4 linked regions of the Homo sapiens genome follow. The protein of the gene in region 3 purifies or fractionates together with the protein of the main gene of each other region. This does not show direct contact. Each region holds a gene or a part of one and is shown on either strand. Other genes may lie near its edges.

Evidence for each region. The genes of interacting proteins can lie anywhere in the genome.
Region 1: the proteins of B3GALT2 (region 3) and IPO13 purify together in Homo sapiens (affinity purification with mass spectrometry; 3 studies listed by BioGRID and IntAct, with this or other methods). This does not show direct contact.
Region 2: the proteins of B3GALT2 (region 3) and GNPTG purify together in Homo sapiens (affinity purification with mass spectrometry, with the first as the bait; one large-scale study listed by BioGRID). This does not show direct contact.
Region 4: the proteins of B3GALT2 (region 3) and TMEM259 purify together in Homo sapiens (affinity purification with mass spectrometry; 3 studies listed by BioGRID and IntAct, with this or other methods). This does not show direct contact.

What each region holds. Positions count from the first base shown.
Region 1 is NC_000001.11:43,959,625-43,963,949, forward strand, and holds part of IPO13 (importin-13), read left to right. Parts: intron 1-624; coding exon 625-705; intron 706-1,251; coding exon 1,252-1,389; intron 1,390-1,541; coding exon 1,542-1,638; intron 1,639-4,325. UniProt on the Homo sapiens protein: Functions in nuclear protein import as nuclear transport receptor. Serves as receptor for nuclear localization signals (NLS) in cargo substrates.
Region 2 is NC_000016.10:1,357,606-1,361,930, forward strand, and holds part of GNPTG (N-acetylglucosamine-1-phosphotransferase subunit gamma precursor), read left to right. Parts: intron 1-4,137; coding exon 4,138-4,192; intron 4,193-4,266; coding exon 4,267-4,325. UniProt on the Homo sapiens protein: Non-catalytic subunit of the N-acetylglucosamine-1-phosphotransferase complex, an enzyme that catalyzes the formation of mannose 6-phosphate (M6P) markers on high mannose type oligosaccharides in the Golgi apparatus.
Region 3 is NC_000001.11:193,177,381-193,181,723, reverse strand, and holds the end of B3GALT2 (beta-1,3-galactosyltransferase 2), read left to right. Parts: intron 1-41; 5' UTR 42-161; coding exon 162-1,430; 3' UTR 1,431-2,994; downstream 2,995-4,343. UniProt on the Homo sapiens protein: Beta-1,3-galactosyltransferase that transfers galactose from UDP-galactose to substrates with a terminal beta-N-acetylglucosamine (beta-GlcNAc) residue. Can also utilize substrates with a terminal galactose residue, albeit with lower efficiency.
Region 4 is NC_000019.10:1,011,124-1,015,448, reverse strand, and holds part of TMEM259 (membralin), read left to right. Parts: intron 1-975; coding exon 976-1,257; intron 1,258-2,090; coding exon of another isoform or gene 2,091-2,108; coding exon 2,109-2,208; intron 2,209-2,875; coding exon 2,876-2,986; intron 2,987-3,260; coding exon 3,261-3,383; intron 3,384-3,456; coding exon 3,457-3,557; intron 3,558-3,650; coding exon 3,651-3,708; intron 3,709-3,785; coding exon 3,786-3,869; intron 3,870-3,949; coding exon 3,950-4,082; intron 4,083-4,253; coding exon 4,254-4,325. UniProt on the Homo sapiens protein: May have a role in the ERAD pathway required for clearance of misfolded proteins in the endoplasmic reticulum (ER). Promotes survival of motor neurons, probably by protecting against ER stress.

The sequences.
Region 1 (4,325 bases), about 150 Mb from region 3:
TCCAGGAGAAAAGGAAGCCATAGGCATCCTGGCCTCTCTGCTTAACTCCCCAACCCAGTTTCAGTTAGCCTCTTGGCTTTAGACCACCCCTGGGCCACTGTCATCCCACAGAGCTGCTTCTTTACATGGTAGTCATCATCCTGCCTTTCCTCACCTCCCAGGACCTCAGTCTGCTCTCTGCTCCTCCATAAGCTGGGAGAGCAGCTTAAGCCTGCATCTGTGCATTCCTTGGGGCTCCCTACCTCAAGCCTATTTGGAGGAGATAGCATCTCCACTTCTTCAGAGGCTAGCCCATAGCCTTGGTTTTACAGAGCAGAGATAGGGAGAGATTTTTTTTTAAGTTTACAAAGTTTTTGTAACCTTATGAAGCACTTGTGATATCTCTGCTTTGCAGTTTGAGGCTTCCTTTGAGATGATCCCTAGAATTCAGGAAATACTCCTTTTTCATTCATGAGAGAGTTCAGCAAACCACTTCTTCCCCCAGGGGTCCCATGCCCTGGGTCCTCAATGTGTGTTCTGGGGTAATAGGTCTGAACTGCTCCCCTCCTCCCTGCCACCAAGTCCTCCTCAAGTGGGTCACAGTGATGGATAGCAGAAGCGCCTCACTTCTTCCTGTGCCTTCAGGTGGTGGTGGTGCTGCAGCAGGTCTTCCAGCTTATCCAGAAGGTGCTGAGCAAATGGTTGAATGATGCCCAGGTTGTGGAGGTGAGCCCTGACCCTTGCCCTCCGCTCCCATAGTGACTGCTCAGAGGTGTAGCAGGGTAAGATGTTACTGCCACACTTCAGCTTACAATGGTTTGGAGAAAACAAGGGAGGTGAATCCTGCCCCATAGAGATAAGGAATCTTTTGGGAAGACATTTAGAACTCCCCAATATCATGAGAAGTGCTTAACGTAAGGACTCTAATATTAGGGTCGAGTGACAGTCAGGCATCTGTTTTAGCACCAAAGACCTGCCTTTGGTCCCTTTTCAATTCAGGTTTTTGTTGCTGTTGCTGCTCCCTGAGAGGAAATGTTAGAGATGTAAGTCGCAGGAGTTAAGTTCCACAGTTACATCCTGTGCCCCTCAGTGAAGGGCCTTTGCCCCCTGCCTTTCAGGGTGAGGGTCAGACTTGCTTACCTTCCTTGGTTTGCAGGGCCAGGCAAGGCTTATAGGTAAGGGCCCAATCGTAGGCCCCCTCTGTGCAGGGCTTCAGCGCTGTTCCAGCCAGTCATGACCTGCTGACCAGGGCCCCTTTGCTTTCTTCCCAAGGCGGTGTGCGCTATCTTTGAGAAGTCTGTTAAGACGCTGCTGGATGACTTTGCCCCCATGGTGCCACAGCTGTGTGAGATGCTGGGTCGGATGTACAGCACCATCCCCCAGGCCTCTGCTCTTGACCTCACTCGACAGGTGGGCCTTCTGGTTGGGGCAGAGATCCTGACCCTGGGTGGGGGTGGGTCAGATGGCTGCCGTGGCTGGGGTCCCCACTTGCATTCCAGGGATATTGCCATGTCCTGGTGAGACTGGGTCTCAGCTGACCAGCATTCCCTGCTTTCTCGTAGCTGGTCCACATCTTTGCTCATGAGCCTGCCCACTTTCCCCCAATTGAGGCCCTCTTCCTGCTCGTCACCTCCGTCACACTCACTCTCTTCCAGCAAGGTAGGTCCTGACCGGGGTCTCTGCTGCTGCTGCCACTGCCACTGCCTCTGCTTCCCCAAATGGGGAGCCAAAGCTGCCCACTCTGTTCTTCTCTGTCCCCTGAGTCACACGTGGGACTTGATGGGAAACCTGTGAGATCAAGCACAACACCTTATAAATAGTTGAAACTTTAGGTTGAAGTGGATAAGAGGGTGAATGATGTCTTCTGCTGGCCTGCTGGGCTCAGGGCCAGTCTGGATATGGAAGAAGGAAGTGGGGGTGGGAGGTGGGCAGAGGCTCTGAGGGGCTTGGGGCACTAGGCTGGCTCCTTTACTTTGGGATATAATGAAAAGTGGAAAGAGCACGGGCTTTTGAAGTCAGCTAGACCTAGATTCTAAGTTCATCACCACCAACTAGTTGTGTGTCCTTGGGCAAGTCACTTACCTTTGCTGGGCCTTCATTTCCATATCTGTGAAACGGAGATAACATATACTTGAAATGATTGTTTACAGGTATTAAAGTCACATCTTCTGGGCCCTTGGCTCAGGGGCTTTTGCACAGTGAAGTACTCAGAGACTGTTGGTTCCTTTCCCTGCATCAAGGCTTAGTACTTTCTAGGCCAGAAGTCAAGTACCTTTGGCTGTGGTCCTAGCCCTCTACTCACTGTGGCCCTTTGCCTGAGAGAGTTGGCAGCAGGGGCTTCATTCAGGCTTCTCGTGTTGTCTAATCCAGGCTTCCAGTTTGGAGAAACAAAAACAAAAAAACAGCACTGCTCAGCTAGCCTCATGAGCCTTGCCTGGATTCATGGTCACAGGTTTGAGGCTCACCAGGGGTCTCGGTTGGTGCCCAGAGTACTCGCAGCTCATATCCTCAGTGCCTGGTCTCATGATCCTGGCCTCTGTTTCTGTGGGCCATGGAGTAGGTCCAAACTGGGGAGAAAACTGAACCAGAAACCTGGTGTGGTCATCCTCAACTCCACCTCTCCCAACTCCCTGTACCCAATCTGGGACAAGCCCCATTGATCCTGACTCCTGATTCTCTCTCGGTTGGTCCACTTCTACCCACCTCCGTGGCCACTGCCTCAGTTTAGGGTCTCACCTGGATTATCAGCAACCTTCTAGTGGGTTTTCTTGGCATCTCCCCTTCTCTCCAATCTGTTCTGCACACTGCAGCTATAATCTTCATAAAAACACAAATCTGAGCATTTGTCATCCCGGGCTTAAAACCCTTTCATTGTTCCCATTGCCCTCAGCTTATTGTTCCATTCCCACCCACATGACAAGGCTCTGGCATGCCTCTAATGTCCTCTCCTGCCAATGTCCTCATGACTCCAACATTTCAGCCACACTGCCTCTTCCTTACCGTGTCCCATTTGATCCCTGTGCCTTGCTCCTCTGACTGGAATGTCCTATGCCCTTTACTGGGTGAACTCTCACTCCTTCATGCCTTAGAAAGGAGGAAGACTGCATCACTTCTCAGAGTAATTTCTCTCTGAGGCAGAATTGGGTGCTTCTAACTGTACTGAAACTGCATCCCATACACACTGCTGACACAGCACTGATCACACACAATAATCAGCTTTCATGTCTGTCTCTCTTACTAGACTTAAGCCCCTCAAGGGTAGGGTTGAGTTTCTTCTCTCTGCATCCCCAGTGCCCAGAATGAGGCCAGAATACAGCAGGCCACAGACACTGTTAAATAAAGGAGGGGGAGGGCTCCCTGCCCTTGGAACCTTTCCTTCTCATTTTCTGGCCCACCTCTAGCAGGGTGGCTGCTGAATATCAAACCTGCATGGTGCACACTGGGCCTCACTTTCTAGGACTTAAATAACTCAGGGTTCAGATACCAAAGGGACAGACTTTATTGGTGACTCTTCATAGCCTAGAGAAGGAAGCAGGGCAGAGATTATCTGCTTTACAGATGGGGAAACTGAGCATTTGTGGCTTGCGCAAGATCACACAGCTACTTAGTGGTGTCTTAGGCAGATGGTTTTGTACCACATCCTCCTGAGAGTGGAGAAGCCTGGGTAGGAGCTCCAGGTGCATGCCATATTCTTGCCTCAGGAATGATCAGAACTGGAGGCAGCAGTGTCCAACATCATATACGTTGGGCTTGTTGGTTGTCTCGCTGGACAGGATGGCTCCCATACCTGTTATGCCATCCCAATCTTAGCCATTCCTTCCTCGGGCTCTGCCTTCCCACTGGACCATAGGATGACATGTTTCTTGTTTCCCTGTTTCTTGGCATGTCCAGATGATGGGAACTAGTCCTCAGCCCTGAGCTTGGCTCTCTGCAGAGTCCATGTCCATGTGGAGGAGGTTTGCTGGGGTGGGGCTCTTGTTTTTGGCCTTATGATACTGTTTCCTCCTCTGGGCCCTGCCAGTGACTTGCCAGGCCATCTCCAGAGCATGCTGGGCACTGCCCTACCTAAGCAAGAGTCCTGTGGTTTAAGTGGACTGAATAGATTATTTTCCTTTGCCAGACCAAGAGCCCTAAGGCCATTGAAGTGAGGTGGCACTTACTCAGGCTCTGATGCCCTGGCCTTTCTAGGGCCCTCAGATAAACCTCAAAAGGAGATACCAAGGACTGACTCCCCCACCCCCCCACCGCCATCCCAGCTTTCCTCTTCAATGACTGGCTGATGGGAGGTATGTGCTAGGAGCAGTGTAGGGCTACCCCAACCTGCCAGAGGCCACAGTAAGTGTGGT
Region 2 (4,325 bases), on a different chromosome or scaffold from region 3:
CGGGTTCACGCCATTCTCCTGCCTCAGCCTCCTGAGTAGCTGGGACTACAGGCGCCCGCCACCATGCCCGGCTAATTTTTTGTGTTTTTAACAGAGACGGGGTTTCACCGTGTTAGCCAGGACGGTCTCGATCTCCTGACCTCGTGATCTGCCCGCCTCGGCCTCCCACAGTGCTGGGATGACAGTCATGAGCCACCGCGCCTGGCCTCGACTTTATTATTAATACGGTAAAACTACAGAGAGTTTGAAACATCAGTCTGGGGCGTCCTCCTCTAACCAGTGCACTTGCTGCTGCAGCGCAGGCCCTTCAGGGGACGGGGATGGGGGCCAGTCCCCTCCCTGCCTCCACGGCCCAAGCCCCAGCCTTCCCCACAGTCCTGGAGGATGGCCCGTGGCTGACAGTCTCGGTGGGCGCTGTGTTAAGGTGGCGTCCCCAGCCAGGTCCCGACTCCCCAGCTTAAAGAACAGGGTGGCTGCTGTGGCTTGACTCACGAGTTGCCACTGGCCTTGATGTGTACACGCCCTTGCTCTAGCACTGCCTGGGGCTGGCCTGGCTGGAGGGTAGGGACGCTGCACGCCTTCCCTCTTCCCCCAGGCGCTGGTGACACTGCCCTGCAACCGTCAGCACCATCATCTCCACAACTTGCTCTGTCCCCTTCAAACCCTGACTCCCAGCTGCCCCGCTCCCCCAGCCCCGGCACCCACCATTCTGCTGTCTCTGAACTTGGCTATTCATAGACGTCACATAGGTGACTCATAACTGTGTGCGACCTTTTGTGTCTGACCAACTCCTCTTGGCACAGTGTCCCCAAGGTCCCCCAGGCTGGAGGCTCTCAGTGCTTCCTTTTTATATGGCTGAGGACTGTTCCACTGCAAGGACAGACCACGTTGTTGTTTACCCGTCATCTGTCCATGGACACTGGAGTGGCTTCCACCCTCTGCCTGGGAATAGGCTGCTGTGAACTTGGGTGTAAATATTTGAGTCTCTGCTTCCAATTTCTGAGAGTAGCTTTGCTGGATCTTATTAGAATTCCATGTTTAGCTTTTTGAGGAACCACCAAACTGTTTGCATAGTGGCTGCACCGTTTCCCATTCCAGCCAGCATTGCACGAGGGGTCCAGTTTCTCCACATTTTCACCAACACTGTTTTTTGCTAACAGCCATCCTAGTGGGTGTGAAGCGGTACCTTAGGGTTGTTTTAATTTGCATTTCCCTAATGATCAGTCATGTGGGATCTTTTCAGTTGCTTATGGTGTTTGTCCTTTTTTTTTTTTGAGATGGAGTCTCACTCTGTGGCCCAGACTGGAGTACAGTGGCGCCATCTTGGCTCACTGCAAGCTCTGCCTCCCAGGCTCAGGCGATTCTCCTGCCTCAGCCTCTCAAGTAGCTGGGATTACAGGCGTGAGCCACCACACCTGGCTCATTTTTATTTAGTAGAGACGGGGTTTCACCATGTTGGCCAGGCTGGTCTCAAACTCCTGACCTCATGATCCGCCTGCCTCGGCCTCCCGAAGTGCTGGGATTCCCGGCTTCTCTGCCCATTTTTAACTTGAGTTTATTGTTGGGCTGTAGTTCTGTGTTCTGGATGTGAGTCTCTTACATACGTGGTTTGCCAGTGTTTATTTTCTCCCATTCTGTGGGTTGTCTTTTCACTCCCTTGATGGGTTTGTTTTTTTTTCCATATAGAGTCTAACTCTGTAGCCCAGGCTGGAGTGCAGTAGCACGATCTTGGCTCACGGCAACCTCTCCACCTCCCAGGCTCAAGGAATTCTCCTGCCTCAGCCTCCCGAGTAGCTGGGACTGCAGGCATCCGCCATCACGCCTGGCTAATTTTTTTGTACTTTATTAGAGATCAGGTTTCACCATGTTGGCCAGGATGGTCTCGATCTCCTGACTTCGTGATCCGTCTGCCTCGGCCTCCCAAAGCACTGGGATTACAGGCGTGAGACCCTGCGCCCGGCCTCTATGCCAGTCTTTATGCCAGTATCACACTGTTTTGATCATAACAGCTTTGAAGTAATTTTTGGAATCAGTATGTACGAGTCTCTCAACTCTGTCTTTAAGATTTGTTCGATGATTTGGGGTCCTCTGAGACTCCCTATGAACTTTAGGATGTGTTTTTCTATTTCTGCAAAAACTGTCATTGGGGTTTTGATGGGGTTGCATTGAATCTGCAGATCACTCTGGGTGGTATTGTCATCTTAAAAATATTGAATCCATCAGGCTGGGCGCTGGGGCTCACGCCTGTAATCCCAGTACTTTAGGAGGCTGAGGCAGGTGGATCACCTGAGGTCAGGAGTTTGAGACCATCCTGGCCAACATGGAGAAACCCCGTCTCTACAAAAATACAAAAATTAGCCAGCCGTGATGGCAGGCACCGGTAATCCTAGCTACTGGGGAGACTGAGGCGGGAAAATCGGTTGAACCCAGTGGTGGAGATTGTAGTGAGCCAAGATCGTGCCACTGCAATCCAGCCTGGCGACAATGCTAGACTCCGTCTCAAAAAAAAAAAAGTGGCGTATGGATGTCTCATGTCAGCTTTATGTAGTGGGTGGCACTGTTTGTGCGTGGATAATTGTGGTGTCTTGGCACATTGACCCTTTTATCAATGTATAACATCTTTGTCTCTTAAAATAGTTTCAGCCACTTCAGCTCTCTTTTGCCTGTTTATATGAATACTTTTCCATACCTTCACTTTCAACCTGTTTATGTCTTTAAATCTGAAGTTAGTCTTTCAGGCCGGGCATAGTGGCTCACACCTGTAATCCCAGCACTTGGGAGGCCAAGGTGGACGGATCACTTCAGGTCCACAGTTGCAGACCAGCCTGGCCAACACAGTGAAACCCCGCCTCTGCTGAAGATACAAAAATTAGCTGGGCGTGGTGGCGGGCACGTGGGATCCCAGCTACTCGGGAGGCTGAGGCAGGGGAATCACTTGAACCCAGGAGGCGGAGGTTGCAGTGAGCCGAGATCGCGCCACTGCATTTCACCTTGGGTGACAGAGTGAGACTGTCTCCAAAAGAAAAAAAAGAATCTAATGCCTGATGAGCTGAGGTGGAACAGTTTCATCCCCAAACCACCCATCCCCACCCCCGGCTGGTAGAAAAACTGCCTTCCATGAAACCAGTCCCTGGTGCCAAAAAGATTGGGGACCACTGGTTTAAGTCCTGTAGCTTTACAGACCATAGCTAGAAAGGCAACTGGTATTAATTCACCCTGCACGAGGACCTCCGTCTGCCTCCGCTGAGCTGCTGTCTGCTCACTTCCCCGGGTGGCACACCGGCCTGCATGTAACCAACTCCTGAAGCTTTTATCTGGGAATGTCCTCTTTTTTGGGGGGTGGGGAAGACAGGGTCTTGCTCTGTCACGCAGGCTGGAGTGCAGTGGTACGATCTCAGCTCACTGCACTCTCCACCTCCTGGGTTCAAGAGATTCTCCTGCCTCAGCCTCCTGAGTAGCTGGGATTACAGGTGCGCGCCACTACACTCAGCTCATTTTTTCTGTGTGCTTTTTGTGTAGACACGGGGTTCTCACAGTGTTGCCCAGGCTGGTGTCATACTCCTGGCCTCAAGCAATCTTCCCGCCTTGGCCTCCCAAAGTGCTGGGATTACAGGCATGAGCCACGATAGCAAGCCTTAACTCTAATTTTTGAAGGGCTATTTTTAGAATTCTCGGTTTTGTCAGTTTCTTCCATTGAATGGTACCTGTTTTCCTGTTTCTTTGAACGTCTTGTGCTTTTTGTTGAAAACTGGTCCTTGGCCGGGCGCGGTGGCTCAAACCTGTAATCCCAGCACTTTGGGAGGCCGAGGTGGGTGGATCACGAGGTCAGGAGATCGAGACCATCCTGGCTAACGCGGTGAAACCCCGTCTCTACTAAAAATACAAAAAATTAGCCGGGCATGGTGGCGGGCGCCTGTAGTCCCAGCTACTTGGGAGGCTGAGGCAGGAGAATGGCGTGAACATGGGAGGCGGAGCTTGAAGTGAGCCAAGATCATGCCACTGCACTCCAGCCTGGGTGACAGAGTGAGACTCCATCTCAAAAAAAAAGAAAACTGGTCCTTTGAAAACAGACTCTGCCAGTCTTTGCAGACAGGTTCTGTGCTTGGACCCTGGGGATCAGTGTGAGGTCTCTTCCAGGACCCGTGCATCTCTTCCGACTCTCGGGCAAGTGCTTCAGCCTGGTGGAGTCCACGTGAGTGCAGGGTGGGTGCGAGGGTGGGCTGGGGCGCAGCCTGCGGACCCCCCTCATGCCATCTGTGTCCCCAGGTACAAGTATGAGTTCTGCCCGTTCCACAACGTGACCCAGCACGAGCAGACCTTCCGCT
Region 3 (4,343 bases):
TTTCAGGCAGTTCTGTAAACTTTTGTGCTTCATTTTTATAGAATGACTACAAGAGAGACAATGTGACTGAATTAGAAAATGATTGCCAAAGAATAGTATTAAGGAGAAGAAAACATTTTTGGTCACCAATCTCTCATATACCACTACTGGATATTTACAACATGCTTCAGTGGAGGAGAAGACACTGCTGCTTTGCAAAGATGACCTGGAATGCCAAAAGGTCTCTGTTCCGCACTCATCTTATTGGAGTACTTTCTCTAGTGTTTCTTTTTGCTATGTTTTTGTTTTTCAATCATCATGACTGGCTGCCAGGCAGAGCTGGATTCAAAGAAAACCCTGTGACATACACTTTCCGAGGATTTCGGTCAACAAAAAGTGAGACAAACCACAGCTCCCTTCGGAACATTTGGAAAGAAACAGTCCCTCAAACCCTGAGGCCTCAAACAGCAACTAACTCTAATAACACAGACCTGTCACCACAAGGAGTTACAGGCCTGGAGAATACACTTAGTGCCAATGGAAGTATTTACAATGAAAAAGGTACTGGACATCCAAATTCTTACCATTTCAAATATATTATTAATGAGCCTGAAAAATGCCAAGAGAAAAGTCCTTTTTTAATACTACTAATAGCTGCAGAGCCTGGACAAATAGAAGCTAGAAGAGCTATTCGGCAAACTTGGGGCAATGAAAGTCTAGCACCTGGTATTCAAATCACAAGAATATTTTTGTTGGGCTTAAGTATTAAGCTAAATGGCTACCTTCAACGTGCAATACTGGAAGAAAGCAGACAATATCATGATATAATTCAACAGGAATACTTAGATACGTACTATAATTTGACCATTAAAACACTAATGGGCATGAACTGGGTTGCAACATACTGTCCACATATTCCATATGTTATGAAAACTGACAGTGACATGTTTGTCAACACTGAATATTTAATCAATAAGTTACTGAAGCCAGATCTGCCTCCCAGACATAACTATTTCACTGGTTACCTAATGCGAGGATATGCACCCAATCGAAACAAAGATAGCAAGTGGTACATGCCACCAGACCTCTACCCAAGTGAGCGTTATCCTGTCTTCTGTTCTGGAACTGGTTATGTTTTTTCTGGAGATCTGGCAGAAAAGATTTTTAAAGTTTCTTTAGGTATCCGCCGTTTGCACTTGGAAGATGTATATGTAGGGATCTGTCTTGCCAAGTTGAGAATTGATCCTGTACCCCCTCCCAATGAGTTTGTGTTCAATCACTGGCGAGTCTCTTATTCGAGCTGTAAATACAGCCACCTAATTACCTCTCATCAGTTCCAGCCTAGTGAACTGATAAAATACTGGAACCATTTACAACAAAATAAGCACAATGCCTGTGCCAACGCAGCAAAAGAAAAGGCAGGCAGGTATCGCCACCGTAAACTACATTAGAAAAGACAATTTTTTTTCAAATGTGCAATTTGTAAATATTGCTAAAAGCATGTATAGTTAGAACTGATTACATCCGTAGGACAAGTTTTAGTTAAAACTCATCACATAAAGAAATTCAAGAAGTATTTTTTTAATTTCTGAAGAAGTTAATTCTTAAAACTATAACATTATATAACAAAAAAGGTTTCCCAAAACAATCTATTTAAAAAACTGTATAAGGAGATTCTGTGTATTAACATGCAATAACAAGCATGCATAAATCAATGGTTCAAGTCTTCTGTTAGGGGCCAATAAAATGTATCTGCATATGTTTTCCACATAAATTTTAATTCAAGAAATGACAGTCAAAAGATCCTTCATTTTAGATTAAGCTTTTCATTTTAATATATAATTTAATGTAAATAAAACATCACTATCAATTTTAAGGAAACTTTTTAATTGTGCAAAGGATAAATTTTTTGACCTATTTTAGGGTTCTAAATGCAATAAGATTTAGTTGAGTTATTCCACAAACACATTATAAAGTTCAGATGTTTCATCAATGCAGTTCTCACGAAAGTATTTACTTTTTAAAAATAACTGAGATATTATTTTAAATTTCTTTTATTAATACTTTCTTTTATTAATATATGGGGGAAAATTATTTTGACATGACGTGGTAAAATGTGAAAAACTAATGTGTCTCAGGCTCAAGTTTTTATAGTTATTAAATGTTTCAAAATAGACAAGTTTTGTTTCCTCATTGATGTTAAGAACCAAACTCCTATTTCAATGAGTTATTGGATTAGACCAATTACTGCACTCTTAAACAGCACCACCATTTAATTTCATGTATATCTAACTTCGAATATATCTGTAAAGATAATCGAAGCAAAAGTAATCACTTAAAGGCACAAATAGGATGTACTGTTGAAAAAGATAAAGAGTGCAGGTGCAGTTTCATTCAACACATTTTTAAGATGCATGTCTGCCAAAATGCAACATACGGGAAGTTTATTTCCTGACAGCAGGTGTACACATGCCAACACTTAATCATTTTATGGCACCTATTTCTTTCTTGGAGTGCCAAGTTTGCAAACCTGCAGTTTTTAATTTGGTAGATGACAAATATTCTGAATCACCAATTAAAAACCTTTTTGGGAGGGATGGGGAAAACTACAAACGTTTGACAAACACAATTCTAGGATGAACAATGTATACAATGCACTTTTATGAAGTTTTTAAAAATAAAGGAAAACAAAAAACTTTACTGAGTGTTATAAGTATTTTCACAATAATTTTGTTTGACTCCATCATGAATTTTAAAATCAAGAAATACCAACCTACTAACTAAAATAGTGTTTTTATTCCATACAAGTATGTAAATCTGTCAATCTTAATTTAGTCAGAATGTTTCTTAATTCTAATAACAATCATTTTTACCTCTTATTCTATTATTAAGGGATAAATCACCAGAAGAGAATTGTAACATTTGTGAAACTTGAAAACACTAAAACTGTTTAAGTGCTTATCTCCATTTCAAATCAGTAGCCTAAGTGTTCTACTCTAAATCAAGTGATTCTGAGAGCTGATCTATGTAACACACCCCAGCTCTTGGATCAAGCCTGTCTTTCACTTAATTTATTCTATATGACTACAGAAATACCAGAATTACTTAATAAAAGTCACACATAAGGGGATAATACCAAATCAGATCAGCATGTTTGACAGAAGACAAAAGGAATCCTTCCCTCAGTGTAGAATAATGCTGATTTATGCTTCAAAAGTTTTAAAAACAGTGTGTGTGTGTGCATACACAGGTGTGTACATAGAAAGAGAACTCAAGTTCTATTTGTCCAAATTATGACTATTTTGCAGGATCTTTAAAAGATAGTAATTTCCATCTGGAAAAAGTTTTTTAAAAAATGACTCATGAAAAACAGATAACAGACACCTAAATTCTTCCTATCTCAAGTTTCAATTTAAAATCTATAAAATTTATAAAATCTATGTAAATTTCTATATTCCTAACATTATCTTGAAAAACGATAGTAATCTGATATCAGACACTGTGAGCTCTCAAAGGCGACTGGATCAAACAGTAAAGTGTCTTTGTACTGTTGAAAATCCTTACTTTAAAATAAATATTCTATTAATTTACTTTTGACTTTTCCGCAACAATACTCAAGTCGTTTTCTTAAGCAAAATAAGCTGATAGTGTATATAAACATCTCACCACTTGTTAACTGTGTCTTCTTCATCCCGACACTATGTGATTTTTATATACATAAAAATATAATTTTAAATGACAGCTTTGCTTTTGGTCAAAGGGTACACAAATAACTAATCTTTATGTTCAAAGTGTTAATAGGTACTTAAGAAGATGAAAACACCAAAACTTTCAATACTTAGAATACTTATTTATTTTGATCAAGTATATAAGTGGTGAAATTCTAATTCAACCAAATAATTGAGATTTCTCCTCACACCTCTTTGTATACAGCATAATCACATATAATCTCAACTGCAATTTTATTAATGTGCTATTTCCAGCAAATTCTACAAAAATAATACCAGTAACAGCAGTAGAAACTATTTACTGATTGTACAAGCAGTATGCTTGGTACTGTGTTAAAGCACTTTACATACATGATCTCATACAACCCTCAGGAACAACACTAAGACAGGAAGGACTCGTGTAAGAGGTTAAATACCTAAGATCACACAGCTAGTAAAGCAGCAGATTTCCATTTCAAGGATCATGTTCTTTTTTTTTTTTTTTTTTTAGACAGAGTCTTGCTCTGTCGCCCAGGCTGGAGTGCAGTGGCCCGATCTCGGCTCACTGCAAGCTCCGCCTCCCGGGTTCACGCCATTCTCCTGCCTCAGCCTCCCGAATAGCTGGGACTACAGGTGCCTGCCACCGCGCCCGGCTGA
Region 4 (4,325 bases), on a different chromosome or scaffold from region 3:
ACTCTGAGTTGTGCCTGCAGCACGCTGGGGCGTGGGCTCCCCAAGCCCTGTGGACGTCGGGGTGGGGCCGTCCTGGGCACTGCGGGGTGCCGAGCAGCATCCCTGGCCTCACCCACTCCATGCCAGGAGCTCCCCCAATTGTGACAACCACAGATGTCCCAAGCATCCCCTGGGCAGGAGCCCCCAGGTGAGAGCTGCTGGCACCCCAGTTCATAGGTTGTGCCTCGGGCACGGCAGCCTCGCCCTGCCGTGGGGCGCTCTGCCCAGCCACGGAGGTCCACTGTGTCCCCAGCAGCTGCGGCTGGCCCCGCCAGGCCTGGGAGGGTTGCACAGGGCGCCCCGCCAGGTGAGAGAAGCTATTTTCAGGTGGTGAGATCAGGGGAGTGCTGGGGACGCAGCGGAAGGTGAGGCAGGAAGCAGCAGGTTGGGCTGTGGAGGGCTGTGCCCTCTTTCGTAGACAGTGGGTCCAGCTGGTGGCCCTGGGGTGGCGGCAACACCCATGCTGCTGCTTGCAGGGCGGGAGCCGTTGGCTGGCAGAGGGCCCTGGTGTGCTCCACTTGGTGGGTCTGAGTCCAGCCTCGTCTCCTCCCAGGTTTGGGGGGTCCTGTGTGCATCTGAGAGGGCCCCGGCCTGCTGGCTTCGTCCGGCTCACCCCTGAGGAGGTGCGGGGCAGTCACAGGCCTTGCCGAAGCCCCAGGGCCTGTCAGAGCCGGGCTGCAGGTGGCAGAGCCCCTCCGGGGTTGGAGTGGGGCGTCCCCCGGATCCTCAGTCACTTGGACTATGTGAGGGGCTGGCCCGGTGCAGTCAGCGTGGGAGGGACCCAGGGTCCTCAGAGCCCAATTCGGCTTCTGGGGTTTCCTTCCTTTCCCCGTCCTGGGCGTCCCAGCGCGCCCCATCACGCCCCATCACGTAGGCCCTTGGGTGTCGGCTGCAGCTGGCCCTGGGGCGCCCCACTGACTGCCGGCCGCCCCCTAGGCCCTGTTTGTGCTCTTCGTCCTGGCCTACATCCACATCGTCTTCTCCCGCTCGCCCATCAACTGCCTGGAGCATGTGCGTGACAAGTGGCCGCGTGAGGGCATCCTGCGTGTGGAAGTGCGGCACAACTCGAGCCGCGCGCCCGTCTTCCTACAGTTCTGTGACAGCGGCGGCCGCGGGAGCTTCCCGGGCCTGGCCGTGGAACCAGGCAGCAACCTGGACATGGAAGATGAGGAGGAGGAAGAGCTGACCATGGAGATGTTTGGGAACAGCTCCATCAAGGTGAGCCAGGCCTGGGCTCAGCTGCAGCAGAGGCCAGCGCCCCGTAGATGCTGGTCGCTGAAGGGGCGGTTCCTGACATCGACAGGATGTTGGGGTTCTTGACTTTCAGGGACCTGGCATGCAGACAAGGCCGCCCCTGCCTGCCGTGGCCTTTTGGTGGCCTGGGGGCTCTGAAGCAAGACCCTCGGCCTGTCGCCCTGCTAGAGGCCTGGGCAGGGCAGGGGGATCTCGGGGAGGACTTGGGCTGGGCAGACTCGGGCCTTTGAGAGTAGCTGTTCCGGGGAGGGGATTGGCTGGGGCTGGGGATGCAGTGGGCAGCAATAGCTGAGGAGGCCTGGGGGCTGAAAGCTAAGAGCTCTGGGCCCATCCTGGCCGTCCTGAGGTGGCCCCACTGCCTGCAGAGGTGCTGGGTTCCCGGTCAGCTTGTGGTGGCCTTGGGCACTGGTGGGACCAGGTGGCTGTGTTGGGCCCCACAGCCTGGTGGGAGATGTTTTTGCTTCAGCAGTCAGGGTTTGGGGTCCCACCTGTTCCCACAGAGCCAACCCCAAGAGTTTGAGTGTTTGGGCAGAGCATCATGGACCCTTCCATGGGGTCTACTGCCTGTAGCTGGCCCTTGCCTCAGCTTCAGGATTCAGAGCTGTGCTGGAGATGGCCTCACAGCAGGGCAGGCTTGGTGTTGAGGTGGGGTCCCAGCTGAGGCGGGAGGCACACGTAGTCCACCCTGGCCTGGTCAGTGGTGGGGCAGAGGCTGAGGCTTCCAGTCCCTTCCCATTAGCAGGACTGTATCCTCAGGCTGGGCCCTCACAGCCCGGGCTGGCGCTGCTGACACCCAGGTCCCTGGTCGCCCACAGTTTGAGCTGGACATCGAGCCCAAGGTGTTCAAGCCGCCGAGTAGCACAGAGGCCCTGAATGACAGCCAGGAGTTCCCCTTCCCCGAGACGCCCACCAAAGGTAGGCCACCCACCAAAGGTGTACTGCCTCACGGGGTTGCCTCAGTCATGGGGTGCTGGGGTGCAGGCGGGGTCCCTCCGAACATCCCCAGCCTGCTGGCTGCATGTCCTGGACCGTTGAGGGCACCCCCGTGCCTCGATTTCCCCATCTGTCAGCACAGGAGGCTGTGGGGACACCCCAGAGCCTGGGGTAACTGGCTCAGCTCATCCTTTCTGGGATCCTCGTGAACGGCGACTTGGAGGGGATGGATCCCTTCGGCTCTGAGCTCAGAGTTCTAGCGGGCTGTGCTCAGGGAAGCCCCCGCCCCCGCCCCCACCCCTGCCCATCTGGCAGCAGAGGGTCTATCCAGAGGGCCGGGGCCTCTGAAGTGTTGGGGGTGTGCTGGGGGCCGCCAGGGCAGTGGGGCAGCCCTGCACCCAGCCAGCCCCAGCCAGGGAGAGGGGGCCACGGGAGGAGGAGCCTGGCCAGCCTCTGCAGTGCACAGGGCAGGACACCAGCTTGAGTGGGCACCATCCCAAGTGTCCATGTAGGGGTCCTCCCAGCACCCACCTGGGGCCCAGGGCTCAGCAGGTCTCACCCTCCACCCCTCAACGCCTGCCTTGCCTGCTGGCAGTGGGCGGGGGACGTGTGTGGGGGCGCTGACCTGGTCCCTGGTTCTGCCCTGCAGTGTGGCCGCAGGACGAGTACATCGTGGAGTACTCACTAGAGTATGGCTTCCTTCGCCTGTCGCAGGCCACCCGCCAGCGCCTGAGCATCCCCGTCATGGTGGTCACCCTGGGTGAGTCTGAGCTGCTGGGCTTGGGGAGCTCCATGGCGGGGCCTCCCCTCCTCCCTCGGGTCTCCTCCTGCTGGTGCGGGACGGGGGGCTGTGCAGGAAGCACTGGGGTCTGCCCCGCCCCAGGCACGCTTCCCAGGGCTGGGGTCCTGGATGGGTTTCCTAAGAATGGGCAGGGCCAGGAAGCAGGCCAGGCCTCAGCAATGGAGCCAGCTGGGGCAGGGCCCAGGGGGTGGCCTGGGCGGGGCTCCCGGCTCCCTGATTCACCCACCCGCAGACCCCACGCGGGACCAGTGCTTCGGGGACCGCTTCAGCCGCCTGCTGCTGGATGAGTTCCTGGGCTACGATGACATCCTCATGTCCAGCGTGAAGGGCCTGGCCGAGAACGAGGAGAACAAGGGTGAGGCATGCCCCGGGGCCGAGGGTGCGAGGGCGCGGGTGGGGGCGGGCGCTCACGGCTCCTTCTGCTGCAGGCTTCCTGCGGAATGTGGTGTCGGGCGAGCACTACCGCTTTGTGAGCATGTGGATGGCGCGGACGTCCTACCTGGCCGCCTTCGCCATCATGGTCATCTTCGTGAGTGCCTCGGGGCGGGTGCGGGGGCTGGCCGGGCGGGAGCCAAGCAGGCCCTCGCAGCCCCTCATAGCGCTTCCTGCGCGCCCCTTGCAGACGCTGAGCGTGTCCATGCTGCTGCGGTACTCACACCACCAGATCTTCGTCTTCATCGGTGAGTGTCCCGCCGGCGCAGGGCGGGGCGGGCGTCCTCCAGGCCCTCACCGGGCGCCCGCCGCCCTGTGCCCGCAGTGGACCTGCTGCAGATGCTGGAGATGAACATGGCCATCGCCTTCCCCGCAGCGCCCCTGCTGACCGTCATCCTGGCCCTCGTCGGTGAGGACCCCACCCGGCCTCCCCCGCCCCGCGCTGCACCCCGCCCCGCCCGCTTCAACCGGCGCCGCCTCTCCCTGCAGGGATGGAGGCCATCATGTCGGAGTTCTTCAACGACACCACCACCGCCTTCTACATCATCCTCATCGTGTGGCTCGCGGACCAGTATGACGCCATCTGCTGCCACACCAGCACCAGCAAGCGGCATTGGCTGCGGTGAGCGTGGCGCGGGGGCAGGGTGGAGTGGGTGCTGGTGGGCAGGGGTAGGGGGCTGCCAGAGGGAGGGGCGCTGGAGGCGGGGGTGGTGGCTGCGCCACGCGGGAACCCCAGGGGCTGGGCCTGGCAGGGTGGGACCTGCAGCCCCGACGCCCTCACCCCGCCCCGCAGGTTCTTCTATCTCTACCACTTCGCCTTCTATGCCTATCACTACCGCTTCAATGGGCAGTATAGCAGCCTGGC